Regions from separate parts of the Homo sapiens genome. Here all the other regions are linked to region 1. The links come from fine-mapping of genetic effects on gene expression. A gene starts in region 1. Each other region holds a variant in brackets. All regions are shown on one strand. Distances are from middle to middle.

Region 1 (5,152 bases):
TATATTAATATGTATACATACAGGCTCCTGGTACACAGAAAAGGGTCTAGAAAGATCCACATCAATGATGGTGATAATAGCTCAGGAGGGGAATAAAATGGGGGAAACTTTCTCTCTTTTCCTCCATTTGAACTTTTTTTTACGAGCAAGTATTCATATATTTTATATAAAGTCGTCCCTCAATGTCAGAGGGGAATTGGTTTCAGGACCCCCATAGATACCAAGATCTGCAGATGCTCAAGTCCCCGACATAAAATGCTGTGGTATTTGCATATCACCTATGCGCATCCTCCCGTATTCTTTAAATCATCTCTAGGTTACTTATAATACCTAATACGATGTAAATGCTATGTCAATAGTTGTTATACAGTATTGTTTTTATGTCTTTTTTTAGTTGTATTGTTATTTTGGGGGGATTTTTTCTGAAAACTTTTCATCTGCAGTTGATTGAATCCACGGATGCAGAACCTGCAGACACAGAGGGCCAACTGTAGGGACTTCTGTTGTTAACCAAAAAGCACATTAAAAAAAAAAAATAAAAGCACAAGGCCTCCCATTCAAGTTGCACACAGACTCATGTAGCCAAAGAAAACACCAGCGGGCAGTCCCTGCTTATGCGTGTGTCTCACCCGCCTGGTCCCCTGAACACAGGCTCTCTTCTTCCATGCTAAGGCACTTGGCCGCTGCTCCAGCCTGGGCGGTTCCAGAAGTGGCCGTCTTGGGCTGGGCGTGTCTTCCTGCCTTCACACCACTCGGCCCCAAACCAATCGCCTTTGGGATATCCACAGAAGGATGCTGGGAGGCTCCTGTTCAACTTTAAGCCAGATGCTCCTAGCTCCAGGACAATTGAGGACAATGTGGTTTTCCTCTTTAGAAGCCCAGGAGAGGAGTGGGGAAATTTGGTGGTGCATGCATGTGTGGTGCACACACACACACACACATCCTACTGACATACTTAACCTGATGACATCCTGAGAAAGAAAACACCTTGAAATAAGCCCCCGAATAACTGAGTTGGCAAGACTCTTTACCTGGCATAAGTCCCCACACTCCCATAGCAAGAGACCAGGTGCTCACTCACAGCACAGGGTCACATGCTTGAACTGCCTGAGTGATAGCCCCTCTAGGGACCCTGCATACACACAGTGGGGTCCTGGCACTGCAGCAGCCACAAGGCTGTCACTGACACACACGTTTCAGTATGAGTAGGCCACAGAAAAATAAAGCTCCCTCAGTGTAACAGAGAAAGCCTCTGAGCTGTCATGGGGGAGAAGAGGCCATTCTGCTGATTTTCCTGCCATCCCCAGAGACAGTGTCACCATCCACCGGGACCTCTTTGCAGTCAGATTACAGGCTTTGGCGGGACAAGATTTGAAAAATCAAAAATAGACACAACGTGGCTAAGATGCCCTAGACAACTGCTCACCCAGAGACCTTGAGAGAGACCATATGTTGCTCCATCTTTAAGGCCAGCTAGCTGGGTCCCAAGAAGTGTGGCAGCCAGATCTAAGCAGATCCTTCATTCATTCACTCATTCATTCGCTCTGTGAATGAGGGAACAGACATGAAATGTGGACAAGGAACCATTCTTAAGAAACCCAGTCCAAAGAGGCAGGCCAAGGGGAAAAGACGTCCATTAGAGTGACAATGTCCACATCTTCACCCCAGCTCTGCATCTGGCTAGAACTTTGATAAGAGTGAGCCCCAGTTTCCCCTCCCCGCCACTGCATGTGTGGGTTCCCAGGGCTTCAAAACTCTAAATGGCTTTTAGTTCAAATGTGATACTCTGCAATCTCCCAGCCCTTCCCTAACTCCAGGCTCATTCAAACAGGCCACCCAGGCACCCAGGGCAGAGTCTGTCCGTCTGCAGACCAGCTGACCGCCTAATCTGTCTCCCTGGTTGAAAGGGCAATGGTATGCAAAGTTAGGATCAGAGGAAAGACCTAAGGCTGCGTGCACTCAGAGGACCTTGGGCTGCTGCCTGCCTCTGCATGAATCTGGGGAGAAAAGCGGCTTATAGTTTCCAGACTGAATCATGGAGGCAGTGAGCAGGGAGAACAGAGTCGCGCATTCTGCCTCTGGGAGAGGGTTCCTATGGGGAGATTCTGGGCAGTGGAGGATGCTCAGCTGAGCACCTACCATGTGAGCTGGGCACCCACGTGGGTCTCACAGAAGGTTCCTGTCCTCCTGGGCTCACAGGATACAAGCAAAGTGCAGCTCTAATTTTACCGGACCCTGCTACCGGCTGCTGTGAAAGCAGACGTTCACACACTCTTGGGCTCCTTCGGGCGGCACCACGGAAGCAACCTGTCCACACTCCTGATCCGTCGTGGGCGCCCAGACCCTTTAGGGCGGGTCAGGCGCCCGGGTGGTCTCCCGTCCAGGCCTCCCCAACCCTGGCCTGCGCCTCCAGCAAAGCCCCTGGGTTCCCCCCTAGCCTCAGTCTGGGGCGGTGAGGGTGGTGGGGAGGCGGGCAGCAGCCCCTCCCGAAGCGCCTGGCCTCCCTCGTGCTCTGCGGCGCCAGGCCCGGGCGCCGATTCCGCTGCGGTCGCCCACCCACCGCAACGCGCGGGTCCTCCCGGCGCCCAGCGCCCAACAGCCCGGGTCCGTGCGCGGACCCCCTGGGGTCTCCCTCACCCACCTTAAGGACCTGCTGCTTGATGAGCGACGGCACCATCACGATCATGACAGCGCCCAGCACAGCGCACAGTAGCCCCGCGACGCCCAGCGCCCCGGCAGCCCAGCGCGCTTTGGCGGAGCAGCCCATGTCTGCGCGCCTGGGGCCCACCCGCGGCTCGCAGGGCTCCGCGCCTGGCAGGAGACGGGGACGGCGACAGAGACGACACAGGCGGGGACTCCGGGCACGCAGGCCGCAGAGGCACGGTGGATCCGGGACGGCAGCGCACGCAGGAGCAGCCCGGCAGGTGGCCAGTGGTTTTATGCCCCATCGCCGGCGCCGCCGGACCGCCCCCGGGCAGCCTTGGGCTTCAGGATTCCGGCGGCAGGGGCGGGGCCTGAGCGGGCCCGGGGCGGGGTCGGGGCGGGGACGGGGCGGGGCGCTGATCGGACGGGCAGGGGGCGGGGCCATGGCCGCCAAGACAAGCCCCGCCATGCTGCCGCTGCCCCCACGGCCTCGCTTCCGTTTTGGGGCGGGAGCTGAGGAGGCCTCGTGGCCGCTGAGCCAAAACGTCTATGGGGCCTGGTGCCCCTCACCCTCTTGCTCCCTTCCCCTTTCTCCTACCCCTTCCCCCACCTATGTCTCCCCTCCTCCCAGCTCTCCCCTCTGAGCCCCTCACCCTTCCTTTTCCCTCCTCCTCCCTCTCCTCCTCTATCGGGACCATCATCATGGTTGGTCACTGTGAGTAGGACTTCGCCAGCCCACCCAGGAACCCCAGAGCCCTTACAACGGTCCACATGCCCCGCCACCACCTTCTAGACCCTCATCTCCGCAGTCCATCTCCAGCCTCACTGTCCCTGGAAGAAGCCCCGCAGGCTCCAGCCCCAGGGCCTCCATACACCCTGCACAGGCAATTCTGTTCTCCCAGGTATCCGCCTGGCCCTATCCTTCGTAACGCTGGTGCCACCATCACCCTATGACTGAGCACCCCCTGGCAGGTTCACGTTCATTTGCGTCCTTGCATTCTGACCATGTGCTCCAACTGGGATGCCAACCCGTGAGGCGGGCCCCCCCCCCCACGCGTCCTGAGCTCTAGAACGTGGCCTGGCAGGGAATGCCTGCTCACAGTAAATATTCTAGAATGAATGACTGAGGAGCCTTCTAGGTGCTGGCCCCTGTCCTGAGTGCTTTGCACACAATGGCTCCATTTTACAATAAGAAAACTGGGAGGTGGCTCACGCCTGTAATCCCAGCACTTTGGGAGGCCGAGGCGGGTGGACTTCATGGATCACCTGAGGTCGGGAGTTGGAGACCAGCCTGACCAACATGGCGAAACCCCGTCTCTACTAACAATACAAAATTAGCCAGGCGTAGTGGCGCATGCCTGTAATCTCAGCTACTCGGGAGGCTGAGGCAGGAGAATCGCTTGAACCCGGGAGGCGGAGGTTGTGGCGAGCCGAGATAGCGCCATTGCACTCCAGCCTGGGCAACAAGAGCGAAACTCCATCTCAAAAAAAAAAAAAAAGAAAAGAAAAAGAAAAAGAAAGAAAGAAATGAAAACTGATGCACAGGGAAGCTTAGTTAACCCAAACCAAGTCCCCACTTTCTAATGAAGAGGGAAACCAATGATGAGCACGTGAGCAAATGAATGAAGGATAATTGCAGGCAAGTGCTCCAAGAAAACAGAACAGGCCCGGTGCATGGTGGCCCACAACTGTAATCCCAGCACTTTGGAAGGTCCAGGTGAGGGATCACTTGAGGCCACTAGTTGGAGACCAGCCTGGGCAACATAGTGAGACCAGTCTCTACAGAAAATGAAAAGATTAACCAGCCACAGTGGCATGCGCTTGTCGCCCCAGCTACTCAGGAGGCTGAGGCAGAAGGATCCCTTGAGTCCCAGAGTTCAAGGCTGCAGTGAGCCCTGATCTTACCACCGCACTCCAGCCTGGGTGACAGCAAGACCCTGGGGGAAAAAGAAAAAAGAAAAAAGGGAGAGAAGTGGGCTGGCACTAAGTGGCAGTTGCCCTTAGATGGGTGAGTGTATCCCTGAAGCCCTCCACGCCCCCCTGAAGTCCTCCACCACACCCCACCTGGCCTGCCTTCTGGTCCCTGAAGTGCTGGCCAGTCCCCTCATTTTCTGAATGAAGTTACTGAGAAGAGACTCCTGGGTTACACAGGGACAGGAGGGTGGTGTCCCCAGCACGTGGGTAAGGCAGGCTCAGTCCTTGAGTGCTCCGAGGGAGGCTTTCTAAACCTCTTATTTAACTCCAGAAGAAAGCAGCCTTCTCGCAGGGCCATCCTTAAGCAACATGTCTTCGCCTGAACCAATATTTACAGAGCACCTGCTATGTTCTCGTTAGACAGCTTTGCCTGGCACTGCCTTCCTCTAAGGAGGCCGAATATGGTCCAGTGCCCCAAGGGGCAGGGCCCAACTCCTGAGGGAGGTCAGAGTGGCTGAGGTGAGACTGTGGTAGCCCCGGGGGACAGGTTCAGAGAAATCCAGGCTCTGGGGTTTCCCACATTGGAGTCCTGGGG
Region 2 (5,129 bases), 86 kb before region 1:
CGTCCCTGCCCAAATCTCATCTCGAATTGTAGTTCCCATAATTCCCATGTTGTGGGAGGGAGCCAGTGGGAGATCATTGAATCATACGGGCGGTTAACCCCATACTGTTCTCCTGGTGGTGAGTAAGTCTCACAAGATCTGATGGTTTGATCGGGGGTTTCCCCTTTCACTTGGCTCTCATTCTCTCTTCTCTGGTCCCATGTAAGACATGACTTTGCTTCTCCTTTGCCTTCCACCATGATTGTGAGGCCTCCCCAGCCATATGAACTGTGAGTTCATGAAACCTTTTTTCTTTAAAAGTTACCCAGTCTTGGGTATGTCTTTATCAGTGGCGTGAAAACCAACTAATGCAATTGCCAAAGGCTGCAACCACTCTACGTGTCCCTCAATAAGTGAACGGCTGAAAAGCACTGGTGTGTGCACCCCATGGAGTTCTGCTCAGCAGTGAAAAGAAAGGAACTATTGCTACACACAACAACAGGCATGCATCTAGAGACAGTGCTGAGTGAAGGAAGCCAGGCTCAGAGGGTTACAGGCTGTAGATCCCATTTAGAACATTCTGGAAAAGGTAAAAATAGCTAGTGGCCAAGGGCTAAGCATGGGGATGAGGGACTTCCCTACAAAGTGGGAGGAAGGCAGCACAGGTCGCAGGCTGGGTGCAGTGGCTCACGCCTCTAATCCCAGCACTTTGGTAGGTTGAGGTGGGACTAATGCTTGAAGCCAAAAGTTTGAGACCAGCCTGGGCAACAGAGCCAGACCCCCATCTCTACAAAAAAAAAATTAGCCAGGTGTGGTGGCACACATCTGTGGTCCCAGCTACTCGGAAGGCTAAGTCAGGAGGCTCTCCTGAGCCTGGGAGGTGAAGGCTGCAGTGAGTCAAGATTGAACCACTGCACTCTAGCCTGGGCAACAGAGCGAGACTCTGTCTCAAAAAAAAAAAAAAAAAAATTATGGGAGCCCACTGTAAAACAAACAAAAACAAAGGGAAGACATGAGGAAATCTTGGGGGATGATGAAATTGTTTTGTCTTGATTGTAGGGGTAATGACTCAACTCTATAAACATGTCAAAATTCATGGAATTGTACACACACTCACACACAACTCTAATCTGTAAATGAAAAAGATATATAAAATGCATACCAAAAGGACATGCATTCCAATAAAATTTTGCTACTTTGATATGTCACATAAAACATAGTAATATAGTTTTGACCAATTGTGTCCTGAGACTTGAAAGGCAATCCAGATGGTATAGGCTAAATGTTTGTGTTGACCCAAAATTCCTGTTGAAGCCCTAACCTCCAGTGTGGCTGTGTCTGGAGATGGGGCCTCTAAGAAAATAATTAAATGAGGCCCTGATCTGATAGCATCAGTGTCCTTATAAGAGACACCACAGAGCTCTCGCTCTCCCTCTCTCTTCCCCCTTTCACACCGAGGAAAGGCCATGTGAGGACACAGAGAAGGCGGCCGTCTGAAGCCAGGAAGAGACGCCTCACCAGAACCCAACCCTGCTGGAACCCTGGTCTCAGACTTCCAGCCTCCAGAGCTGTGAGAAATAAATGGTTTAAGCCACCTATTGATGGTATTTTTTCTTTTTGAGACAGTGTCTCACTCTGTCTCGCAGGCTGGAGTGCAGTGGCATGATCACAGCTCACTGCAGCCTCAACCTCTTGGCTTCCAGCAATCCTACCTCAGCCTCCTGAGTAGTTGGGACCACAGGCGCCCACCACCACGCCTGGCTAATTTTTGTATTTTTTTTGTATTGATGAGGGTCTCACCATATTACCCAGACTAGTCTTGAACTCCTGGCATCAAGCAATCCTCCGGTCTTGGCCTCCCACAGGGCTGGGATTACAGGCGTGTGCCACCACGCCCGGCCTTGATGGTATTTTGTTATGGCAGCCCCAGACCTAAAAAAATTTACCCTTGATGGTCACAAGAAATAAAAAAAAAAAGTTTGCTTCAACTTATATATTTATGTTGCAGGCAAGTATAGGAGTGATTAATAAAAGGCTTAAAAGCATCAAATATAAATATCATTTAGATAAAATTTTAGGAGGGAAGAAGAAAGGAAATACAAGTTTAAGGGGAAAAGGGCTAACATTTCTGACCATAAAAGAGCTTGTTCGTATATTCTTTGAAATGTT[C/T]GGCAGTGAATACCCTCTCCTCTCCTAGTTAGATCCCAGCGGGCACACTTAAATACTGATGAAATGGTCTCATATTCAAACATCAACGATGATGACAATCGGAGAAAATTCCATCCTTTGCAATGATCTACACTTAAGATGAGAACTTTTAGATGGCTCCAATCTGTTCTCTTACCCGCTTCTCTTCTTCACCATTTATGTAACGAGCAGAAAGCAAAGGCCTAGAACAACACGGGGCATGTCCTATGGGCACCAGGATTTGTAGATAAATGCACAGAAACACATCCAGGGGGCCCCATGCAAAAGTGGCAAAAGCGTCTGCACTGGGGGCTGTGGGATGGGACTCAGACCCTGCTGCTTCTAAACAAGGGCGTACTCATGCAGTATTTCTATGAAACTCAACATTGCACAAGGTTGAAATTTGAAAACAACAGGAAGGTAAGCCAGCAGCCCGGCCCTGGGAGAGACGCTCTTGGCAGCCACCAGAAAGGAGCTATTGACCAAGAGAAGAGGAGCCCGGAACTTCCCAGAGGCCCCCACCCCCACGACCTCAGCAAACAAGGCTGTCACAGAGGCAGGCATCCCATTTTTTTAAACGTTTATTACTTCAAGAGTGAATTATTTTTCAAAGATGATAAAACTCATTTCTATTCCAGTAGAAAAGGGTCACAGGTTTGCCCCAGGGTCCAGGAGCGCCCGGAAGGCAGGGCCCCCAGGCCTCTTCACCTCAGCCTGGGCACCTATAATCTGAGGGACCCTGTGAGGGGGTGGGGGCAGCTCGGGGGCACAGCCTGCGGCCACTTCGGCCAGAGAGTGGCCGGCTCAGTCCATAGGATGATGTCAGTTTAGGCTGGAGGAAAAGGGCGCCAGACAACCCGATGCAGTGCCTGTGAAGACTTCGGGGGGATCAAAGTCCGGCCGGGGTGGGCGGAGACCCTCGGGCAGCTGCACAGGGCATCTTGTGCTCACTCCATTGTTTTCCGAGGCCTGTGTAAAGGCGCTTTGCCTGGCCTGGCAGGTAGACCAAGGCCAAAGCTCGTGGCCAGGGCCTGGGCACTGAGTCCCCACTGAATTTGGCACAGGAAGGCGGCACTCCCAGCCTGGCCCGTCCTGCATGGGGAGCCACCACACCGGGACTGCAGTGTTTCACCTTGGAGGGGAGGAAGCCTGGGCCCAACGGCTGAACGGGACAGGCCAGGCTCACCCGAGGAAGGGGACGCAGGACCCACAGCCCCTGTGGTCAGGCCTGTGGGCCACGTGGAGAGAAGGTTCCAGAACAGTGCTTGTTGACGAGCCTCTCCCTACAAGTCCCTTCAGCAGCAGCTCCATCCCTGAGTGTCTGCACAAGCCTGCACGCATGTGTGTATGTGTGCCAGGGCGTGTGTGCAGGTGTGCAACAGGCACATGGCAGCTGGGAGGCTCAGGCTGTGGGGCTGGGGGGCTGTCCGCTGGGAGAGTCCGGGAGAAGCGGGGTGTAGGGGCTGGGGGGCCGGTCAGGCCCAGCGGCCAGGCCTGGCTGGCTCACGGTGTCCTCAGGACCCTGTGGAGAAAGGCAAAGCTGGGTGACCACCCACGCCCTGTCACCAAACCCCACCCTCATCCCCGCCCACCACAGCCCTGTACCCACATCCCCAGCAGAGACTCCACCCCCGCCACCAGGCTGTCAGAAGTGAGAAGAGACTGGAGTCACCTATAGACTCCTGGAATGACTCCAAGGGCCTCTTCATCTCACTCAACACCCGCCTGGCCTCCCCGACCTCCTTTAGAGATGGAGAAACTGAGGCCCAAAGAGACTTAATACAGTGAGGGGCAGAGCAAGGGGGGCGGCCTGTGTGCAGCACAGTCAACATGGAACAACCGGGGCAAGCTCTGTCCCTCAGGAGGAGAACGTATGTTTATGTGTTGATTTATTTTTTATTTTTTAGAGACGGTCTCTCTCTGTCGCCCAGGCTGGAGTACGGTGGTGCCATCATGGCTCACCACGGCCTTGAACTCCTGGGCTCAAGTGATCCTCCCACCTCGGCCTCCCAAGTGGCCGGGACAATGACACGTGCCACCACCACGCCCGGCTCATTTTTTAATTTTTTGTAGAGATCAGGTCTATGTTGCCCAGGCTGGTCTCGAACTCCTGGGCTCAGGCGATCCTCTCACCTCAGCCTCCCAAAGCGCTGGGATTCCAGGCGTGAGACACCATGCCTGGCCTGTGTTTTTAAACCCATGTCACAGGACGGTATTCAGCCTGAACAGTATTCCTGAACAGAAGACAGGGAGGAAAGCCAGCCACACAGCAATACACGCAGCAGGATGCAGCTTCGGTCACATTCAAAAAGTGACCTCATGCTCATGGCTGCGCACATGCAGATTCAGAAAAAACAAACCCACGTGCCAAGTTCCTGGCCATGGCTGCTCAGGGTATGCGGGGCGCAGGACGTGGGGAGGGGGACGAGGGCCACCCAGGGAACGAGTGAAACCAAGGGCATGAGATGCTGGCCATCTTCAACACTGACAGCTGTCAGCAATGGCTGCGTCTGGGTGAGGGGAACTGGATACTGTCATTTGTCTAGTTTGACAGTTGTAGAAAATTTCTCAACTTAAAAATTAAAAATACAGATAATGCTAATGATAAGAGTGTGGGGTGAGCCTTCGTCCCACTAAGCCCCCTGCCTCCCTTGCCCTGAGCAACAGAGGCCTCCCTGCCCCGGTGGCTGGGGCTGGAAACCGCTGCCCACCTCCGCCCACCTGTGCTTGCTTCACCACGGGGTAGGAAAATCAAACTCCTGCTCAGGGCAGAGAGCGGGCACAGGGGCCAGGGTCTGCTGCACTGAGCCAGGCGCGGGGGAGGTCAGCCCCGCCCCCACACCACCCACTGAGGCAGCACAGGACACCCACAGGTGGCTAGACCTTAGCCATGTGGGCCCAAAGAGCCGTGACTTGAGAAGGTCTCACTCAGAAGTAGAAAGGGGAAACCACCCCTAGGCTGT
Region 3 (5,152 bases), 48 kb before region 1:
AGGAGCTCCAAGGTTGCCCGGCTGAGTGACTGCACCCATCACAGACCTCCAGAGCAGGACCCAGCACAAGGCCCCAGCCCAGCATCCCGGGTGTGTCTGTCACGTGCCCATGTGGAGCCAAGAATAACCAGAGCCACTACAAAGGGGAGCATTAAAGGGACTCATGTGCAAAAACGGCCAGGTACAGTGCACCGGACACAGTAAGAGCTCAAAATGATAGTCTTTATTTTCATTATTATTGTTATTATTAATAAATGCTCACCCAATAGGATACTTAAATGATCATTATAATGGACGGAGAGCATCAGAAACTGCCAGTTACTACCCAAAGCCCAATCTCTCCTTACTCTTTCATACAAAACCCAAACCATACTCAGAGCATCAGCACACCCAGCTAAAAGGCTACCTTTCCAGCTTCCCCTGGAGCTAGGTGTGGCCATGTGACTCAGTTCTGGCCAATAGAAAGGAAGTGGACATTGGTTTTCTTCCTCCCTAAGAGGGAGGAAACTGGAACACGCTGTTTTACCCCCAGTTCCTCCATCTGCTCCCCAAAGCCCCACCATTTTTTCCTTCTTGCTGTGCTGCCTGGAATGTGATGTGATTGCTGACACTCTAGCAGCCAACTTGGACAATGAGGTTATCTTGAGGATGAAAACCACATGCCAAGGATGGCAGAGCACAGTAGTAGAAGGCTTCCAGATCACTTAAGACCATGAAGCCACCACACCAACACTGAACAGCCTACCGCTAGACTTTTCTTGTGAGGTTTTCATTATATGCAGTCAAACGTAGATTATACTAAACTAGGGACTTTGTAATAACTTTCATTTGCAAAGCACTTCAGGATTTACAAGATGCCTTTACAGCATCATGCCACTTAGCCCAAACTTGCTCATTTACCCACACGACAGGAGCCCGTCACCCTTGACAAAAACGTACTGAGTATCTATCACACGCAGCACCACGATATCCCCCCCAGCACTCTACCCTGATCAGCAGAGACCAAAGAGATGGCTGAGGCTGGAGCAGTCCCAAGGACTCAGTGAAACCTGCGGTGAGGGAGCCAAGGTCAGGGTCAGACCCTCCATGGACGAGATGTTGGCTCCGAAGCCCAGTCAGTGACCCTACCAGGTTGCCAAGAGTCAAGATTAAGAGTCAGCTTGTGATATTACTCCCCAGCAGCCATGCCCCCTTCCTCCAGCAAAGCCTCCAATTTGCTAAGCTAAGGCCCAGTCACATCATTTGAGCCTGGATCAAGCTGTACCTGAATCCAACCCTAGCATTTTCAGTTCTATGAGCCCCAACATTCCCCATTTCACTCAAGCCGGTTTGAGTCAGGTTCTCAGTCACTTACAACCCACAGCCACTAGATCCCCAGCCAGCTACAAAGCAAGCTGGTGACCAGTGTCCAGGCTGTGTGAGGGGAAGACAGGACACAGGCCTGAATCTTTGGCTTCTCACCAGGCCACACGTACCTCAGCAAATAATCCGAACTTGTCCTTGAAGGGGAACATGCCTGGAAAGTACTTGTTGATGAGATTCACAAGGGGGTCCTTGTAGCCCCACATGATCTCACCCACAGTGCGGTTCATGAAGGCACGTTCGCCGAGGGTGGTGAATGCCAAGGTCATGATGAGCTTCAGGGTCATGGGCTTATTCTCCATCATCACCGCCGCACCCTGCAAGGCGAAGGGACACTAGTGTCAGAGGCTGGACGTGGCTGGCCCATCCTCCCTTGGCCCCAGCTGGGCCTCACAGCAAAGAGCCCATGAAGGGAAATGCTGGGGTGCAGGAGGCCCCTGGAGTGGCCACGTGGGGCATCTGGGACACCAGAACCACCCTCTGCTCCTCCAGTGCCAAGGCCACATGTGCTCCCGAGAACCCCTTCTCCCCCTTGCACCCCACTGGACTCAGGCTAAGTGAACTCCAGCCCCAGTCCCAGAGGCGGGCCTGTGGCTCAGCCCTCAACAAGACAGCCCCTTTTGGAGATCTCAGAAATGTAAATTGAAAAGGGAAAAAAAAGTACTTTGGCCAGGACTTCCAAACCAAGACAGGTGGACCCACCTGGGAAACTCAGAACCCACTGGGGGTGGTGGAGACAGCACAGGGCCGAAAGCCACCCACCAGGCGTGAGTCCCCACGCTCCGACCACCTCAGGGACTGCTCTCTGCACAAGGGGCAGGCGGGAGGAGAGACAGGGGACGAGGTCAGGGTGCGAGGCGGCGTGGGCCACAGGGCAGCCTCACCAAGACCAGGATGTTGGGCATGACGATGTAGTCGCTCTCCGAGCCGTGGGACTTGGAGGGCTGGAACTGGAAGGTGCGGTACTCGAGGAAGGACACGGTGTCGTTGTTGTTGAAGGTGATGTTGCTTTTGTGCCTGAACTCCCTGTGGGGGAAGCCAGTGGGTCAGACGCCCCGCCCCGCTGCATGGGACGTTTCCCTTCTACTCGCCTGCAATGCCTGCCTGGGAACCAGGGGCCCTGGACGTCTGTGCACACCTCCGGCCCCACAGCCAAAGCTGAGCTCGGCCCCTTCGCCAAGTCTGTCCCTCCCGCCGCCTGCCCACTGCAGGACATGGTGTCGCCGCCCACCCGGCCTCGTTCTGCTCTCCCCCACCCAACACGGCCATCGTCTCTCCATCTACAAAAGGAAGTAATCACAAGCCCTACTTCACAGGGCAGCTGTGGGGATTAAGCAATCAGATACCC[A/G]GAAAGCAATCAACACAGCCGCCGGGTGCAGAGAAAGCACGAGGTAAACATCAGCTGCTGTGACTGTTGCTGCTGCTGTCCTTATGATCTCTCATCTCTCCAAGCCACTCTCCACCATCCAGAAGAATCTTTGAAAAGTGGAAATCAGGTCGGGAGCAGTGGCTCATGCCTGTAAACCCAGCACTTTGGGAGGCTGAGGTGGGCAGATCACCTGATGTCAGGAGTTCAAGACCATCCTGCCCAACATGGCGAAACCACGTCTCTACTAAAAATACAAAAATTAGCTGGGCATGGTGGCAGATGCCTGTAATCCCAGCTACTCGGGAGGCTGAGGCAGGAGAATCGCTTGAACCTGGGGGGCGGACGTTGCAGTGAGCCGAGATCGCGCCACCGCACTCCAACCTGGGTGAAAGAGAGACTCCGTCTCAAAAAAAAAAGTAGAAATCAGATCGTGCCATGCTCTGGACCACAACCCCACTTTGCATGCAGGTTAAAATCAGGCTCCTAACGTGACCTCTGAGGCCCTCAGCAAGGCTCAGGCCTCGTCTCTCCACTGTCTCCCTCCCTCGTAACCCCAGCCGCACAGGCCTCTGTCCCAGCCTTCAGACCTTTGCACATGCTCTGCCCGGGACTCTGTCTCCCCAGGGCCTCTTCCCACCATGCGGGTCCAGTGAGTGTCCCTTTGCAGATGTGCTCCCGACCCTCCAGTCAGACCGAGCCCCAAGGCCACCCTCCCTCCTGCACTCCGGCTTCACACTGTTTTGTCTGCACAATACTGATGGCTGCCTGATTTCCCCTTATTTGTCCACTTCTTTACTCTCTCCCCATCAGAACATCAGCTTGGTGAGGCAGGGCCTTGGTCTGCCTGCGCCCCCAGCACACAGGAGGTGCTCAGTCAGTGCTCACAGAATGAAGGAGTATAGAGAGCTTTGGCATTTTTGCCCATTCTGTCCACTGCTGGGTCCCCTGTACTTAGAACGGCAGCCAACACCTAGCAGGTGCTCAGTAAACATTTGTTAAATGAACGAGCGAATGAGTGAATGAGTGAACGGAATGCAGCAGCTGATTCATGTTTCCCATTCCCAAACCTCAGGCACATTTGCTGGGTTTTCATCTTGGCTTTCCCAGAACCAGACTGTGGGTCTCCAACAGCGGGAACACCCTCTGCCCGCCCCATCCCTGGAACACCGTGTGCCGGGGGCAAGTCAGCTCCCCTGTCTGTGAACTGGGAAGTGGGGGTGTGGAGGAGGGGAGGTGCTGTGAAAACGCCAGGAGGTAAGGGAGTTGTAACAGGCACATCCGCCAGCCGTCTCAGAGCTCCGAGTGCATCCTGAGTGTCCCGGTGACCCCATGAAGGGGCTCTTGTGTCTCTCCAGTCTGCAGACGGGCAAACTGAGGCTCAGAGGAATGAAGTCACTTCCCCTAGGCCACAGCCAGGTACAGGACAAGCAGAAAGCAAAGGCACAACTCTGTGGTCCTTGGGCCAGCATGTTCCACAAACAGCTGACCCCTTCCCGTGCTGACCCACCCGGTCCTCTGGCCCAGATAGGGTCTGGGGGGTCGGTCCCTGCTCCTGGTCATGCATGTGTGTGTGTGTGTGTGTGTGTGTGTGTATGTGTGTATGCATGTGTAGGTACATGTGTGTGTATGTATGTGTGTGTGTATGTGTATGTACGTGTGTATGTATGTATGTGTGTATGTGTATGTGTATGTGTGTGTATGTATGTGTGTAACTCACACATGCACCCTCCACCCAGACGCACACCATTGGTCCCTCCCTGCTCCATAAAGAACCTCTCTAGGCAACGTCTGGTGATTCGCACCTGTAATCCCAGCACTTTGAGAGGCTGAGGCGGAGGATCGCTTGAGCCCAGGACTTCAAAACCAGCCTGGGCAACATAGCAAGATCCCATCTCTAAAAAAAAAAAAAAAAAAAAAAAAAACCCTAAAACAAAAACTTCTCTGGGACTAGCACTTACCCCGACTATGACTTGCCTGCTTCCGGAACAATCTCTGGGGCTCAGTCAGCAGCCTCCCCATCCCGTCCACTCTGAGACCCCTCCCCTGCCCAGCCTCAGCCGGCCCCTCCACCCTCACCTGGACACAGCCTCACCTGTACACGTAGGGCCCGCGCTCCCGCACCTGCGGCTTCTCGCCCTTCAGGATCTCGCTGGGGTTCATGACGTCAAAGAAGTAGACGGAGAGATAGAAGGGGATAGGGATCTCCTTCCACATGTTGAAGGACAGGCTACTGGGGTCGATGCGCACGTTCTGCAGGGGAAGGGACAAGTACGCTTGTGAGGAGAGTGATGAGGGCCCCACGCCCCACCACAAGGCTCCGGAACAGCTGCCCGAGCCCGGCCAGGGAAGGGGCTCCTCGGCGGGAGCTTGGGATAGGAGGTGGTGGGAAAGCCCTTCGCACATGAGGCTGTCGCACCTGGA
Region 4 (5,152 bases), 20 kb before region 1:
TCCTCAAACCTTGAGGAACCACCCTTGATTCCTCTCCTTCCCTCGCACCCCAGTCCACTGACCTATCTTGTTGACTCTCCCTGAAAAAAAACTCGAATATGTTCCCTTCTTTCCATTTAGAAAACTACCCCCACCTGGCTCAAATCACCATCTTCTCTGCCTCCCCGCTTCCAGCCTGGCCCCCGACACTCCCTTCTCCAGACAGCAGCCAGAGAGCTCTTCAAGACTGAGTCAGGCTGGGCGTGGTGGCTCACACCTGTAATCCCAGCCCTTTGGGAGGCCAAGGCAGGTGGATCACCTGAGGTCAGGGGTTCAAGACCAGCCTGCCCAACATGGTGAAACACCATCTTTACGAAAAATACAAAAATTAGCCGAGTGTAGTGGCACGCACGTGTAATCCCAGCTACTCAGAAGGCTGAGGCAAGAAAATTGCTTGAGGCTGGGCGCGGTGGCTCACGCCTGTAATCCCAGCACTTTGGGAGGCCGAGGTGGGCGGATCACGAGGTCAGGAGATTGAGACCATGCTGGCTAACACGGTGAAACCCCGTATCTACTAAAAATACAAAAAAATTAGCCGGGCGTGGTGGCGGGCGCCTGTAGTCCCAGCTACGCGGGAGGCTGAGGCAGGAGAATGGCATGAACCAGGGAGGCGGAGCTTGCAGTGAGCGGAGATTGCGCCACTGCACTCCCCCGCCTGGGCAACAGAGCAAGACTCCGTCTCAAAAAAAAAAAAAAAAGAGAATTGCTTGAACTCGGGAGGCGGAGGTTGCAGTGAGCTGATACCATGCCACTGCACTCCAGCCTGGGCGACAGAGAAAGACTCTGTCTCAAAAAAAAAAAAAAAAAATACTGAGTCAGATCATGGCTCTTCCCTGCTCAGAACCCTCCATGGAATTGAAAACCAAATCTGAACTCCTCCAGGTGTCCTGCAAGGCCCCCACATGCCTGTCCCCTTTCACCCCCTCCAGTCACTTCTCCCAACCCCACTGGCCTGCTCCCTCTTCCTCCAACACAGCAGGCTCCTTCGCACCTCCGGCCTTTGAACCTGCTGTGCTCTTTGCCAGCTGCTCCCCAGCTCATAGAGCCCCTCCTCTGAGAGGCCCTCCTGACTCCCACATCAGAAGGAGTCCCCTTCCCAGCAGTGGCTCCATGTCAGCTCACCTGCCTCGTCCCCTTCCTAGCTCTTCTCGCCACCCCACCTCTTCCATGTGCTTCTCCATGGCCCATCCCTCCTGCTAAAGCGTAGCTGCCGTGAGCAGGACCAGGTCTCTTTTGTCCACGGCTGTAGCTCCAACACTTGGCACGAGACCTGGCCCACAATTTGTGAGCAGTAAACATGGGCCGAAAGGATGAGTAGCTTTCCCTGCCACTTCAGCCCTGGGGGTCCCTCCTCCTCCTCCCACAGTCCTGTGTGCCCCATTCAGGTGGTTCATAAACAGCTGCCCGGAGCAGATTCTCCACTGGGGTTTGTCCCATCTGTAAAATGAGGGTTGTAAATGTGCCCAAACAGCTGGGGATGAATGCAAAGCGCCCCACGCCCCGTGTCACTCCCAGCCAGGAGCAAGAGGGCACCATGCCAGTGCTGCCTCTGGCCCAGGCAGTCACCTGTCCAGGGGAAACAGGCCTCTAAGGCTCCAATGGCCTCACGCACTGGAGTTCATCAATAACACAAGCCGAGAAAGCCCCAGGAAAGCTGGAGACGCTGCCGGAAATGCAAAGCTGCTCATTCTTCCATCCGTCCCAGCTAAAGGGGTTCGAGGAAGCTCCTCCCCACACACCTCCCAGGGTGGAAGGGGACCTCATATCTCAGCGGGGCTCTGGCCCTGGCCCCAGCATCCCAGTCCCTGTCTCTTCTCCCTGCCCCCACCAAGGACACAGATGCCCAGGCCTGCTGGCAGCTTCATCACACTTATCTGCACTCCCAAGCCACAGATTACAGCTGTCAGGCCCAGAGGAAACGTGGCGGTCACATCAACCCTGACTCTGAAAACAGCCCTGAAAGACACAGGGGTGTTTCCAGCACAGCAAGGTCTTACTGGAAAGGACCCCTGGACCCCAATGTCCTAGAGGTGTGCCCCACGACCCCACATGCCCCTCTTCACTGCTCTGGCCTTTGGGAAACACAGCCCTGTCCTTTACAAGGTCCTATTTGCAAAGCCTGCTGGGAGACAGAGGCCCAGGGCTCGGATGAGGATGGGTTCTGTGCGGGAACAAGAGATGCCAAGATCCACCTAGGTGCCCCAGCCAAGAGGCAGAAAAGCATGGGAACCGTGTGCCCTTGTGGGACGTGTGCCACGGACGGGAAGGATACGGGTGTGGGTCCCCCTCTGTGGACGCAAACATGTTTATTGCAGGAAGGAAAAACAAGGAACTATTAACCCAAGTCACCTCTGGAGCAAAGACCAGCTGGGGCCAGGGGAGCAGTGTCGTGCTGTGATCTTTCCAGAAGGCTGACTCTTTTTCCGTACACTTTTAATTTGTTTGATCATATCCCTATTTTACCTTCCTTATTTTTAATGCCAGCCAGGGCTTTCTGGGTAAGAGCTGGGCACACCCAGGGAGAGGCACGTGACCATCCGCAGCTGCTCTCCTTGGCCTCCAGTTTGTTTTGTTTTTGTTTCTTACTTTCTGTGGAGATGGGGGGGG[G/GC]GGTCTTACTATGTTACCCAGGCTGGTCTTGAACTCCTGGCCTCAGGCGATCCTCCCACCTCTGCCTCGCTAAGTGCTGGGATTACAGGCATGAGCCACTGCGCCTGGCCTTGACTTCTGGTTTGTGAGATGGAAGAACATTGGCCCCATGTGCAGAGGTGGAAATCGGCTTTTAGGAAAAAAGTGAGTTTCCACAGGACCCAAGTAATGGGACCTGGATTTGAACCCAGAGCTCTGCAGATCTGAGGATTGGGCACCTGCACACATAGTGCTGGTCTGAAGCATGTCCCCTGCCAAATTCATGCCCACCTAGAACCTCAGAATGTGGCCTTATTTAAAAATAGGGTCTCTACAGATGTTACCAAGTTAAGGATCCCAAGATGAGATCATCCTGGATTTATGAAGGGCCCTACATCCAAGCTGGAGGCCCTCCAAGCCCAAGCTGGTGGGGTCTAGCCCCAGTTTGCTCTGTGACCCTCCAACATGGCCCTCAAAATCTCTGAGCCTCAGACCCCCACCTGAGGACTTATGAAAGGAAGAAGACTCAAATTCACACCTCAGAAAAGCACATGAGAACAATGCTGCACCACGTACCCTCACTGAGACCCCAGACATTCTCGAAGACTAAATCGTCTCAGGTGCTGGAGAGGATGTGAGAGCTGGGAGGGTGAACAGCAGTGGCCCTTCTGGAAGGCATGTTGGGTGAAAATGGCTCCCCCTCTGCCCTACAGCAATTCCACTCCTGCGCATCCCCAGGAAATTGTGGAGAAGTACAAGGCAGCAGGGTCCAGCATATTTGCTGTTTGTGGAGGCAGGAGTCAGACATAACCAAGGTACCCCCGTCGCTAAGGGAATAAATACAACAGGATGAACATGAATTAGGGGGTCCAGGCAGCAGAAGGAAGCAATAAGCCTGATACACACATAGGAACACGGATAGATTTTAAACAGGGCAGCACGAGGAATGTTGACACGAGTTACCGTGCATGGCATGGAAAAGCCGCCCTCTCCTCAGACGTGACAGGCCACATGAAGGGGGCCTCCCTGTGCCACCCCCAGCTCAAAGCACTTCCACCTCTAGCTCCCTCGGTCCTCACTGAATCCTATAGGAAGGCATGGTTTTAGCCCATTTTATAGGCACCCTACTATTATGAGCTGAACAGTGTCCCCCCAAAATTCCCATGTTGCAGCCCTAACCCTCGGTGCATCAGAATGTGACTGTATTGGCGCGGGGGGCAGGGCCTTTAAATCGGTGATTACGTTTAAATGAGGTCAGTGGGGTGAGCCCTAATCCAATCTGACTGACGCCCTTAAAAGAGGAGATTAGGACCCGCAGAGAGTCACCGGGGATGTGCGCACACAGGGAGAAGGTGGCGTCTATGAGGCCGGGAGAGGGGTCTCCGGAGAAGCCAGCCCTGCCAACATCCTGATCTCAGACTTCCGGCCTCCAGAACTGTACGGGAATACATGGTCTTTGGCCCATGCACCTGTTATGGACATTTTTTTCTTTCTTTCTTTCTTTTTTTTTTTTTTTTGAGACAGAGTCCTGCTCTGTTGCCCAGACTGGAGTGCAGTGGCACGATCTCGGCTCACTGCAACCTCTGCCTCCCATGCAGACTCAGACACCCACCAGAGACCAGAGACTCGAAGAGCCTGTCCATGGTCACACAGCAGCAGGAGGCAGGGCCGGGATCTGGACCCACACCTGCAGGCTCCGGAATCTAGGACTGCACAAGGTCCAAGGACACACTCAGGTTTACAGACGCAGCCACACAGAGGATGGGCGCAGGGGCAGGGCGGGCTGAAGAGCGAGAGGGGTGAGGGGAAGGAGGGCATAAAAGGAGACCACTGAAAGCAGAAGCCAAGCGAGTTCCCGAACATGCGCGCTCCCAGCAGCACCGCTCCCGGCAGCCACCAGCCCAGACGCCCATCCACAGAGGCGCGGAAAAACAGCATGCAGTGCACCCGCACCGTGGAGGCCTGCTCAGCTACAAAAAGGAAAGCAGCACTCCACATGCCACACCACGGATGAACCCCAAAACATGACGCTAAGCGGAAGCAGCCAGGCACTTAAGGCCACACATTGCATGATTTCATTTATAAGAAATGTGCAGGGCCGGGCACGGTGGCTCAGGCCTGTAATCCCAACACTTTGGGACCGAGGCAGGTGTTTGACCTGAGGTCAGGAGTTTGAGACCAGCCTGGCCAACATGTGAAACCCCGTCTATATTAAAAATACAAAAAAAAAAAAAAAAAATTAGCCGGGCGTGGTGGCGGGCGCCTGTAGTCCCAGCTACTGGGGAGGCTGAGGCAGGAGAATCGCTTGAACCCAGGAGGCGGAGGTTGCAGTGAGCCGAGATCACGCCACTGCATTCCAGCCTGGGTGACACAGCAAGACTCTGCCTCAAAAAAAAAAGAAATGTCCAGGGCCGGGCACGGTGGCTCAGGCCTGTAATCCCAACACTTTGGGACCAAGGCAGGTGGATGACCTGAGGTCAGGAGTTTG

Alleles and levels. Alleles are on the strand shown, and positions count from the first base shown. SD is a standard deviation of normalised expression in the study named. Not every link is listed here.
For the expression in monocytes after interferon gamma of the gene that starts at base 2,911 in region 1, GC is the high allele of the variant in region 4 and G is the other (moderate effect, 0.51 SD a copy in Fairfax 2014).

Evidence for each region. PIP is the estimated chance that this variant, and not a neighbour inherited with it, causes the effect. A credible set is the group of variants that fine-mapping cannot tell apart.
Region 2: its variant is the best candidate, but not a certain one, in a credible set for the expression of SCARB1 in monocytes (Quach 2016, PIP 0.78).
Region 3: its variant is the best candidate, but not a certain one, in a credible set for the expression of SCARB1 in whole blood (TOPMed, PIP 0.89).
Region 4: its variant is the best candidate, but not a certain one, in a credible set for the expression of SCARB1 in monocytes after interferon gamma (Fairfax 2014, PIP 0.65).

Annotation. Positions count from the first base shown.
Region 1 is chr12:124,860,954-124,866,105 of GRCh38, forward strand. SCARB1 (scavenger receptor class B member 1) reads right to left here and starts at 2,911. Exons shown (of 13, transcript NM_005505.5): 1 at 2,642-2,911. The coding sequence starts at 2,767. It overlaps LOC105370050 (a long non-coding RNA gene), which reads left to right and starts at 3,109. Exons shown (of 3, transcript XR_945488.3): 1 at 3,109-4,651. RefSeq lists enhancers at 739-1,265, 3,359-3,558, 4,946-5,115 and silencers at 1,089-1,218, 2,449-3,128.
Region 2 is chr12:124,774,899-124,780,027 of GRCh38, forward strand. SCARB1 (scavenger receptor class B member 1) reads right to left here. Exons shown (of 13, transcript NM_005505.5): 13 at 1,958-3,688. Among named protein-coding and RNA genes, the nearest start is that of SCARB1, 86 kb to the right of the region's middle. The variant C/T (reference allele first, on the strand shown) is at 2,149.
Region 3 is chr12:124,812,727-124,817,878 of GRCh38, forward strand. It overlaps SCARB1 (scavenger receptor class B member 1), which reads right to left. Exons shown (of 13, transcript NM_005505.5): 2 at 4,824-4,981; 3 at 2,247-2,388; 4 at 1,476-1,679. Among named protein-coding and RNA genes, the nearest start is that of SCARB1, 49 kb to the right of the region's middle. RefSeq lists enhancers at 937-1,106, 4,003-4,502. The variant A/G (reference allele first, on the strand shown) is at 2,711.
Region 4 is chr12:124,840,653-124,845,804 of GRCh38, forward strand. All of the region lies in intron 1 of SCARB1 (scavenger receptor class B member 1), which reads right to left. Among named protein-coding and RNA genes, the nearest start is that of SCARB1, 21 kb to the right of the region's middle. The variant G/GC (reference allele first, on the strand shown) is at 2,647.